Linked DNA regions of Homo sapiens. The protein of the gene in region 2 purifies or fractionates together with the protein of the main gene of each other region. This does not show direct contact. Each region holds a gene or a part of one and is shown on either strand. Other genes may lie near its edges. The genes, in order: PODXL, SLC46A2 and HELB.

Region 1 (3,651 bases), on a different chromosome or scaffold from region 2:
AATCTGCAGCTGAACGCTGCATTTTGTGCAGCCAATTATCCCGCAAACATTTCTTAACCACCTATTTGGCTAGAGGCTGTGGAAATGACAGGGGGTCCTCAGCCAGTGGGCCAGTGGCAAACACCGACATATTTAGGCACAATGCATGGTGGCCAGTGCTATGGCACAGTATTCCAGGCACCCTTAGGAGTCTAACTCTTAAATAGCAACATGGCCCCAAGCCTCAATTTACCCTTATGGTAGAGGGGTAGGGAAAGAGATGTGGGCACAGTATAGGTTTGTCACCATCCTAAAGTCCTTTTTAAAGAGGTTTTTCGCCAGGCATGATGGCTCATGCCTGTAATCCTAGCACTGGGAGGCTGAGGTGGGCAGATCACTCAAGGTTAGGCGTTCAAGACCAGCCTGGCCAACATGGTGAGACCCTATTTCTACAGAAATTAGCTGGGTGTGGTGGCGCATGCCTGTAGTCCCAGCTACTCAGGAGGCTGAGGCAGGAGGATGTCTTGAATCTGGGAGGCAGAGGTTGCAGCAAGCCACCTGCACTCCACCCTTGGCAACACAGCGAGATTCCATCTCAGAACAAAAAGAAGTAAAATAAAAAAATATATAAAGGGGATTTGGTGAGTTTTTCCAATTCCCAGGAGGGAATCAGCACTGAAAGGGCTGAGTTCTATTCTGGTATTTACAGCTGACACGTATGCGCACATGCACACACATACATGCACGCACACACACACACACGCACACACACGTGTGCACACCCACCTCCTGGAAAGCTATTTATTGAGAGTCACTGGGAACTTGGGCGAATGAACCCACCTCCCTGGCCTGCAATCCCCCATTTGAAACAAGCAGGTTGTAGTAGATGATTTCCAGAAGGCTCCCCAGCTCTAGAATTCTGTGTCCTATGATTTTCTGGCTCATTTAGAAGTGGTGTGGAAAGTACCCTTTGCCAACCGAATTCCACATTGCACAGCCTGCAGGCTGCCGACTCGAAGCAGTCATATGGCAAATGTTACTGCAAATATGAAGAGGCTCCTTTAAGGGATCCTCTGTGTCAATTTTCTTGAAGGCTTTTCTTATAGAGAATGCCCCCGTCATTTGGCCTGTGCAGGGTAGGAGTCACCATCCCAGATCTGCTACATCACTTGATTTCTTAACAGCCCCATAGAGCAGACAGGATACATGATAAAGAGAGGCCCATCCAACTTAGCCCATGTTCCTGGGTCCGGGACAGGAAACCCCACCAGCTGAGCTCCCTGCCCTGCTTCATGGCCAGTGGGTGCAAATAGGAAATGAGCCCAGAGCTGGGTAAAGAGCTCCTGGCTGAGGTCCAGTGAAAGTGTCCAGGCAGGCTCAGGCTGGTGGGTAGGGATGGGCAGGGCAATGCCATTCTCTTTCTCTGATTATGTAGGAATGACTTCCATTTCAGCTAGAGCAAAGCTTGCATTCAGCAGCCCTGAAGAGGGCCTCTGCCTCAAAGGGTGTGAAGAAGCAGCACTTCCTGGAATAGGGGTCATCTACGTCCCCTCCTGAGAAGTCCAGTGAACTGGAGACACGATTCCTCCCACTTCCCTTAAGAGTGAAGGGCTCTGAGCTGGGTGCGGTGGCTCATGCCTGTGATCCCAGCACTTTGGGAGGCTGAGGCGGGCGGATCATGAGGTCAGGAGATCGAGACCTTCCTGGCTAACATGGTGAATCCCCGTCCCTACTAAAAAATACAGAAAATTAGCCGGGCGTGGAGGTGGGCGCCTGTAGTCCTAGCTATTCGGGAGGCTGAGGCAGGAGAATGGCGTGAACCCGGGAGGTGGAGCTTGTAGTGAGCTGAGATCACGCCACTGCAGTCCAGCCTGGGTGACAGAACGAGACTCCATCTCAAAAAAAAAAAAAACAGTGAAGGGCTCTGAGCTAAGTGCTGAGCCAGCTCCACAGCAGCCACCAGCATCACAGGGGTCACCAGCCCCACAGAAGCCTTAACCTTCAGCAGTTGCTCCCACCAGCTCTAGCTGCTGGAGAACAAGCCCACTGGCCAGACATCCCTTCCCAGGATGCAAACTCCCCTTCCAGGGAGCCTAAAGCCAGGGCTGAAGCCGGTTCCCCTCAGTTCTACAGTCCAGAGTATCCCAAGCGACCGCTCAGCGCTGGGTGCTGGGCTGGGCCCTGGAGGTGGTGATAAGTATGTTGTTGGCCCCTCGAGGGCCTCACCGCATGGTGGAGGAGACACACAGATCATGGAACACACTTTGGTTCTCCCTAGGAAACCAGGGAAGGCATCTCAGAGATGATGCCTGAGGGTGGCTAGGAGTGGCTCTTCCCCTCCCTCCCTGCAAGGGGGGGAATTCTAACCACAGGGAGTCTAGTCCCCTTCCCCTCTCAGCTTTCCACAGGGCAGTGGTGTTAAAACCCCAGGCAGCACCCTCCTCTCCTTTCAAACATGGGTTCCTGAGGAAAACCAGATGGGGGACAGCCTCCATGCCTCTTCCCCCACCTTCTCTAGGCCTGGGGGACACCCTGAGGACCCTCCTGGGCAGGCCACGCTCCCCTCCTCAGCCCTTCTCTGGACGACCACACTCCAAAGCTCTGGCCACACTGACACCAGGTGCTTTTGGGTCTGCCCTTGAATGGCTGGGCTCCTAACCCCGCCATGTCCAGCTCGCTCCTGCCTCAGATCCTGTCCCAAGCTGCACCATGCTGGGAACACCCACATTCCCCCACCCCAGCCCTGGGCACCTTGTTTTTTTCCTTGAGTCAGGGTCTCCCTCTGTTGCCCAGGCTGGAGAGCAGTGGCGTGATCTTGGCTCACTGCAACCTCTGTCTCCCACGTTCAAGCAATTCTCCTACCTCAGTCTCCTGAGTAGCTGGGACTACAGGCGTGTGCCACTACCATGCCCAGCTAATTTTTTTGTCTTTTTAGTACAGTCTTACTAGGTTGCCCAGGCTGGTCTTGAACTCCTAGGCTCAAGTGATCCTCCCACCTTGGCCTCTCAAATTTGCTGGGATTCCAGGCGTGAGCAGCCACACCCTGCCACCGTGGAATTTTCTCTCCAGTTCTGAGAGCTAATCTCCCCAAAGCCTCAATGACTCCATCTCAAGAACCACCATCACAGACTCCCCGACCCTAATCTGCATCTCCCCTACACACTACAATTCATAGAGCCTCAGCCACATTAGGAAACACTGACCCTTTTAATTTTAAAATCCCTATGTGAAAACCCCACCTCCTTCAGGAAGCTTTCTCCAGACCTCCAGACCACCCCTTCCAAATCTTATACTCTTTTCCATATGCCTCCCTCTCCCACAGAGTGGCACTGGGGCTTCAGTTTTTATTATCATATATCCACTGATACCCACAAACATTGGCAGGATCCCAATGCCTGGGGTCCCTTAAACCCACCAGGTGCTCAATATATATGCTTACTAATCATCATAGCTATTTTTTGAGTGTTGATCCTGAGTTGGGCGTAAAGCCAAGCCCATGATATATATACTCGCTCATCTTCATAGCAACCCACAAGGTAGGGCTGTTATTACTTTATAGATGAAGAAACTGAGGTTCAGGGAGGTCCACTATTTTGTCCATGGTCATGCACATCTCTCTGACCCAAAGTCTGAGTGTTTCCACCCCACCAAGCTGCCTTTCTGTTGCCCAGA
Region 2 (3,751 bases):
GGAGCATTCATCTCGAGCTTTCTGCTTATAGTTGTCTGACTTGTGCCCTCAGATGGAAACTTAATGCTGCTTCCTTGGGGAATTTATTACATTGGTTGTGGAAGGCATTTACCGAGTATTTTAATGCATTTTTAAAAAGCCCTTGCTTGACTCCAAATGATTTTAATTAAGGGATCTTTTCAGTAGAATTACTTGAAATTCCACTCCTCCACGTTTTTTTTTTTTTGTTTGTTTGTTTTTTTTTTTTTGAGACAGAGTCTTGCTCTATCACCCAGGCTAGAGTGCAGTGGCACAATCTCGGCTCACTACAACCGCTGCCTCTTGGGTTCAAGTGATTCTTGTGCCTCAGCTTCCTGAGTAGCTAGGACTACAGGTGTGCACCACCACACCTGGCTAATTTTTATGCTTTTGGTAGAGATGAGGTTTTGCTATATTGGCCAGGCTGGTCTTGAACTCCTGGCCTCAAGTGATCCTCCCACCTCCCGCCCAAAGTGCTGGGATTACAGGCGAGAGCCTCTGCGCTCGGCCTTTGAAATTCCATCCCTTTAAAATGGCAAGGGGGTGTGGGGGAAGAAACCCAATTCCATCTCCTCTGTTGAAGGCCATCCTGAAGCCTCCCCTACTGACTCCAGGTACCACTGACCACACCTCCTTGACTGCCCAGAACCATGAACACCACTCTGGTAACATTTCATTCTCAATATAGATAATTAATTAACAATACATTACAGATAAACTCAGGGGCATATAATCTTGTGTCCCTTGTGCCTCCTAGGTAGCAGGTTCAATCCCTGGTGCTGAGCTAGGACACCCAGACCATGGCATCCCTGGTGTCAGCCCCATGATGCAGAGGGCTAGCAATGTCCTGCCTCCTCAAGAATGACAGACTCACCAATATAGAACATGTATGTCTCTTTCACAAAAGCCAAGAGGAGGGCTCCTGACCCAAAGGAGACCATCCCAATCATGATCATGGTGGTGTCCCGAAAGCAGCGGGAGAAGACCAGGACACCCAGGAAGCTGGTGATGAAGATGGTGTACCCTGCAGCCATACCATAGCCCACCTGCACTTGGTTCCAACCGAGAGGCTCCCTCAGCACAAAAAGAGGGATCACGTCCACTGTGCCCACCACCGCCAGGTCATATATGATAGCACCCACAAAGAGCAAGGCAATGGTGGTTTTATGGGGTTTTGCTTTTCCAGGAGATGGAGGGTGCCCCACTGCATACTGTTGGTCCAACTGATCAGGATCCAGAGTGCGGTATGTGCCAACCGTGCCAGACACGGTATCCACGGCGGGGAGCTCCTGGCTGGGTTTGGCCACCGACTCAGGGACCTTTAGCACCAAAAGGCTGTAGAGCAGGGCAAACGAGGCACAGCTCACGCTGCAGGCCGTCAGTATCAGGCCCTGCCCAGAGTGCCCAGCCATCTGCTTGAAGAGATGCCCGGAAGCCATGCTCCCGCAGAACCCCGCCAAGCCCAGCATCAGGTCAATGAGGATGAGGCGCACAGAGCGGCGGCCCTCGGAGGAGCCCAGCGATCCCAGCGCCATGACCCCGGACCAGAAGGCGGAGAAGCCGCCGAATAGCCCGTTCAGCGCCGCCGCCCCGTACAGCACCTCCACTGGCCAGTCCAGCAGCACCTTGAGCAGCAGCCCGAGGCGGGAGAGCAGGAAGCCCAGCAGCGACATGCAGATGGAGATCTTTCGGTGGTAGCGGTCGCTGAGCCATCCCAGCCCGTAGGCGGACAGCAGGGGGGACAGGCCCACCACAAGGTTGTAGATAATGTAGAAATTGGAGATGGCTCTCTGCTGTTGGTCCTCTAGAGCCCCCCGGGGCGATGGGCTGGCACTGTGGTTGGAGGAGCCTCCGGTTCCGTAGGACGCCTTCACCACGAGGAGTAGCCCCGCATCGTAGAGGGAGGCAGCCACCTGGGACGAGGCCACCACGGGCTCAACCCAGGTCCTCGGGTGGAAGCGAGGCAGGTGGCCCCTCCGCGGGCAGGTGACCTCGGGGCTCATGTGACCTCTCTGATGGGGATCGAAGGGCTTTCTGGCTGCAGTGACAAGGATATGCTCCCAAATTCGGCTGCTACGGCTGCTCAGGTTTCAGTCCCGGAGCGCGAGTGTGCTCCGTGCGCCGGGAGCGCGAGTGTGCTCCGTGCGCCGGGAGCGCGCCGGCCAGTGGCGAGCAGAGCCAGGGCACGCAGCGCCTGTGACAGCAGCCCGCCCAGCAGCCGAGTGACCTCCCGAGTGACTCCTCCTCAGGCCAGAAAAGGCCGCGCTCCACCCTGCCCTCGCCACCTCAGGCAGAGTAGGACTGGCGACAGTCCAGGGAAGCCAGGCGCGGGGGAGCGCACCGCGAGTGCTGGCTCCTGGCGCCAGCACCCCCGGGGCCGACGGGTCACGCTGCTCCTGTGAGCGCGGCCGCCTGACGGGGCCGAATTTCCCCACAGCCAGGCGTGCGTGCCCGGACCTCCCGCGGATCTCTGCGGACCCCCCACCACCGGGGCAGGGGCTGGAAGGAAGCTCCCCAGGACTGGCTCAGGGAGCGTTTCCAAATTCTCCCATCCCAGGAAGGCAGGTTTGCGCGAGGGGTGGGACGCCTAGGATTCTGCCTAGGATAAGTATTGGGGTGTGAAGTTTTATTTATAGATTTAATGCAACAGGGGCCCATGTGCTATAGGCAGCTGGGTAGCACTTTGAGAGAAGTAAAAACTTGGGAGCCGCCAGGTCCAGGCTCTTCTCCAAGCCAAAGGCCTCTTAGAGAAGAGTCCTGTTTGGTACACCTGCATTGGTGGGCCTAGTGCCTGGGCCTTGTCTAGAAGGCTCCTGCCCCAAACCCCAGGGCCAAGGGAGAGACGGCAAGATCCTGCCAGCCCTAGATGTCCCCCTAGATGATAAAACTGGACTCTTGGGCAGGGGCTTGAGCCCACTGGAAGGGGCAGAGTCACCAGGGTCCTCATCTGAATCAAGTGCCCAGGTCCCTTTCTGCTTGTTAGTAGTCACTCTTCTTCTGTCTGTGGGCTCACTCCCCTGGGCTGGGCTGAGACCTCCACTTCCCAGGTGGCCTCGCTTCTTGTTTAGGTACATACTTCTGCAAAGAAAACCAGGGTGATGGATGGTGCAGGGGCCAAAATGTACCACAGAGCATGACCTGTTCCATGGTCAGCCCCAGGGATGGAGACTCAAAGCACACAGCCTTCCTGTCCCTCTACCCACAATCCACTATAGCTCTGGCAGCGTGGATGATCAGGAACCCAAAGACATGAAAGGGAGACGCAGGTATGCAGGGAGAGCTTAAAATGCCACATGGATAATATACTCATGTAGGGAGTAGGGACTGGATTCCAAATGATTTAGTGTATCTATGTGCTCTTTTGGTAGTGTTTAGGTGGGCTATAATCTCCTCCCCTGCCACCCTCAACCTCCAGCATGGCCCAGCCTCCTCGTGTCTAGGCCCAGACGACTCTGCCTTCTGCAAAGAGAAAGACACACCTAGTCTTGCCCTTCAAGATGTGCCCCATGGATCTGGCCCAGCAGCCCATTTCCTTCTTCCTCCCCCTCACCTAGGGTCACCTTGGGAGATACATGTTTCACCCAACCCAAGCCTGGCTCTCCCACTCCATTCTTAATTTTTCCAGAGGCTACAGCAAACAGTCCAAACACCTTGATCCTATGAGGGGTGGAGACTCCAGTGAATGAGTAGGTTATGGGGCCAGGTGGTATTCCACAATCAAATATGGCCATGA
Region 3 (3,651 bases), on a different chromosome or scaffold from region 2:
GGAAATCTTCTCCTTTATGTATATGACCTGTGTCATGTCACTTAACCATTTGTAAAATGGGAACCATAGTGGAACTCCCTGTGGAGCTATTACGAGGGTTGAGGGCATTCATCAGTGTGAGACACTCTATAAATGTCAGTTTGTTGTGACTAATAGATGTTATTAAATTAGCTATTGCAAGTGAATTTATTTAAATAGATTGAACTTATCTGTTGATCTTTATTTTCATTATAAACTCACCTAGCAAACCTTTTAAAAATGGTGTAATGGTTTTCTCAAAATTGAATTAGTAAAGGTTTAAACTATTATTACTGAGGACTTTTTGTAGTTGCCACTGTTCTCAAAGGTATATCCTTCCCACTTAACCACTTTCACTGTGTATGTGAAAGTAATGATATACAACTTCATCTGTCAGCCTTTTCCCCTTAGTGTGTGTCCCCAGTCTCACTTCCCGTGGGTTAGTGATCATTTACATGTTACAACAATGTATTTAAATAAATGCGATCATACATAGTGTTCTATAATGTGCTTTTTTGGTTTTTTTTGTTTATTGTAGAAACTTTTTTTTTCTATTTTTCATTCAGCAAATACTTATTGAACTCCTGTTATATACTAGATACAATACAATAGATAAAGCAGAGGAAAAGATTAAAAAAAAATTGTCCCTGAGGTTATTGTGCTTTCATTCTAGTGTGGGAAACAGATAATTAAAAAGTGAACAAATATATTTTCAAACATCAGAGTACAAAGAATCAAGTAAACTTAACTAAATACTTACCAGTGACTGATTAAATTTGTTGCAAGATTGCTTTAGATTGTGGGGGCCAATGATTTGAGAAACAATTTATACTCTTTAAAAAAAAAAGTCAATGATACAGGAATGTTTGAAGTAAGAATTAATGTTCCCTGGTAATTTTCCTTTCTCTTCTTCCCCCAGGACAATCCCATTAAGGTCACACACATAGTAAAAGCTTGGTGTTTATCCTTTTAACCTTATTATATCCATATACAATCATATTTATTTCAGTTTTACATAAATTGGTTTATAAGCTGCATATTGTTTTGTGACTTAGAAATGTATGTTAAATAATTAATAGCTAATGTTTCTTTTCACAGCTTAGTTAATAGTAGGTCCTATTTACAGGTGAGGAAAATGAGACTTAGTTAAATAGATCTCTTTCTTTGCCACTTCACTTAATTCTACCTAAAATATTGTTGGTTTTATTTCTGGTACCCATTCTTTGCATTAATGAGAATGTACTTTTAAAAAAAATTGTCCATTTTAGACTGGTAGCAGAGCTTACCTGATACTGCTTTTCTAAATTAAAAACTTCTGCTGGAAAATTAGTCTCTTCTTCAAGGAAATTGAGTAAATATTCCTTAGGAAGCATATAGTACTTTTTCACTAATTATTAAGTTATTAAGTAAATTATGCCCATTATTACAAAGTACTAAGACCTAAGACAGGATTCATATTTGGGCTAGAATTTCAGAGTTGCTAAAATGTGAGAAAAATGTATATCTTAGAATCAATAAAATACGTTGTACATATTGATCTGCAAGATGTGGGGAAAGTGAAAAAAGGTATGGAACAGTGCCATCCTGTACATGTTAAAAAGAACAGTATGCTGGGAGACCTTTGGAAATTCCTGTTCCGGAAGCCAGGGGTTGGTTGAGGGTGAGCTGAGTCTTGGCTGTTTTCTAGCGGTAATCTTCCCTTCATCTGAAAAATGAAGGGCTCAGCAGGCAGCTAAGTTTGTCTTCCCAGAGCAGGGCATCACAAGGCATGGGCTTTTTCATTCCCTTGTGATTCATCTGCTATTAGGGAAACATACATGGGAAAATGCTTGTACTTCCATGAGCCTTAGTTTTCACATTCATAATATGGATGTCATCAGAAGTCAGACTACCCAATGGCTGTAGGGCATGAGCACCATTGGAATGGATGCCCCCGCTATGCCAGGGTTAACCTTTTAGTTGCTAGATCATGGGGAGGTCTGGGGAGAAGGAAAGAGATGGTTGGGGTGGGGAGTAGAGCATTGTGTTGTTAGGGGAGTGGCTGTTTTCCAGCTAATATGGAAGTATTGCTATGTTTTATACAAGTGTGTGCCAGTTGAATATCAGCTCTGAATATAAGAGCACCTACCACATGTGGGTGTCCTGCATATTAAGTGATATAACATATAAGGCCTGTATATTGTCAAGTTCTAACTGATTACTAACATGATCACAAGGACTTAAAACAGGAAGTTTTACATTAGTCATGCTGTTACACACTTTGTACTCTTGTTTATTTCTTAAATTCAGTGTTCATAAACCATCAGCAAATACACAGTGAGTCTATTACAAATGGGGAACTGTCCTGGCCAGGGGTTGACCTCTCTGTTGAGGGTGGGTTGTCTTGGAACCCTTCTTTCCATTCTCTTTCCTATTGCCCTGGCTGATGTGGGGAATGAGGTTGACATTCCCATGGTGAACTTGTATTCCATTTGGTGAGATATTTTCCCAGGGCCCTTAGCAGGAATCCCAGATTAGTTTCTTCATAGAAATTGTGTTATAATTTGGTGATTTGCTGTGTTAACTTTTTTCTCTTGAATTATTAGGTTTATATTCTGCAGTTAAAACTTTACTACAAGAAAATAACTTACAAAATGCAAAAACATCACAATTTATTGCATTTAGAAGGTAAAGCATTTATAATATTTTAATGTTTTTAATCTAGCTTTTAAATCTCATAACTTATTAATATAGATCCTGTTTGGATGGGAGATTCCAATATTTCATCACTGTTAATTCTCTTTCTTATTTTGGGGTATGTCTTTGTTAGACATGGCAGAGGGCGCTTTCTAAACAGAGCTCTTTCCACCAAGTATTATATTTAGAAGCTCATAGGGACTCTGAATGGAACAAAAGCTTATGCTAAGATAAAAAATACAGGCTGGGCTTGGTGGCTCACACCTGTAATCCCAGCACTTTGGGAGGCCGAGGCAGGCAGATCACTTGAGGTCAGGAGTTTGAGACCAGCCTGGCCAAAATGGTGAAACCCCTCCTGCCTACTAAAAATACAAAAATTAGCCAGGCGTCATGGCACACACCTGTAATCCCAGCTACTTGGGAGGCTGAGGCAGGAGAATTGCTTGAACCCGGGAGGTGGAGGTTGCAGTGAGCCGAGAGCACGCCATTGCACTCCAGCCTGGGCAACAAGAGCGAGACGCTGTCTCAAAAAAAAAAAAAAAAAGATAAAAAGTAGAAAAATACTATTTCCTGGAGAAAGTCTTGGAAACGTTTTGTAGAATCTAGTATGTCATAATTGCTGATAACAAAAGTAAACCTGTAGCAGAGACCATTAAGGTGACCCCTGCATTTTCGTGTGTTTCAGGCAAGACTGTGATCTAATTAATGACTGCTGCTGCAAACACTACACAGGCCACCTCACCAAGTGAGTGTCTTCGAGAACTGAAACTTTTAAGGACAGTCCTTCTTCGATTTGCTGGTTTTTTTTTTTGCTTTGATGTTTGTCACCTATTTACATATATTCCCAAAATAGTTTTTTTTCCCATTTGTGAAATAGAATGATCTCTTCAATTAAATACAATATATGAATACATCCTTGGGAATTGACATTTTAGTAATGAGTGGAATAAGAAGAAA

Evidence for each region.
Region 1: the proteins of SLC46A2 (region 2) and PODXL purify together in Homo sapiens (affinity purification with mass spectrometry; one large-scale study listed by BioGRID and IntAct). This does not show direct contact.
Region 3: the proteins of SLC46A2 (region 2) and HELB purify together in Homo sapiens (affinity purification with mass spectrometry; one large-scale study listed by BioGRID and IntAct). This does not show direct contact.

What each region holds. Positions count from the first base shown.
Region 1 is NC_000007.14:131,550,060-131,553,710, forward strand, and holds part of PODXL (podocalyxin isoform 1 precursor), read right to left. Parts: intron 1-3,651. UniProt on the Homo sapiens protein: Involved in the regulation of both adhesion and cell morphology and cancer progression. Functions as an anti-adhesive molecule that maintains an open filtration pathway between neighboring foot processes in the podocyte by charge repulsion.
Region 2 is NC_000009.12:112,888,661-112,892,411, forward strand, and holds the start of SLC46A2 (solute carrier family 46 member 2), read right to left. Parts: upstream 2,217-3,751; 5' UTR 2,022-2,216; coding exon 893-2,021; intron 1-892.
Region 3 is NC_000012.12:66,319,345-66,322,995, forward strand, and holds part of HELB (DNA helicase B), read left to right. Parts: intron 1-2,603; coding exon 2,604-2,685; intron 2,686-3,379; coding exon 3,380-3,439; intron 3,440-3,651.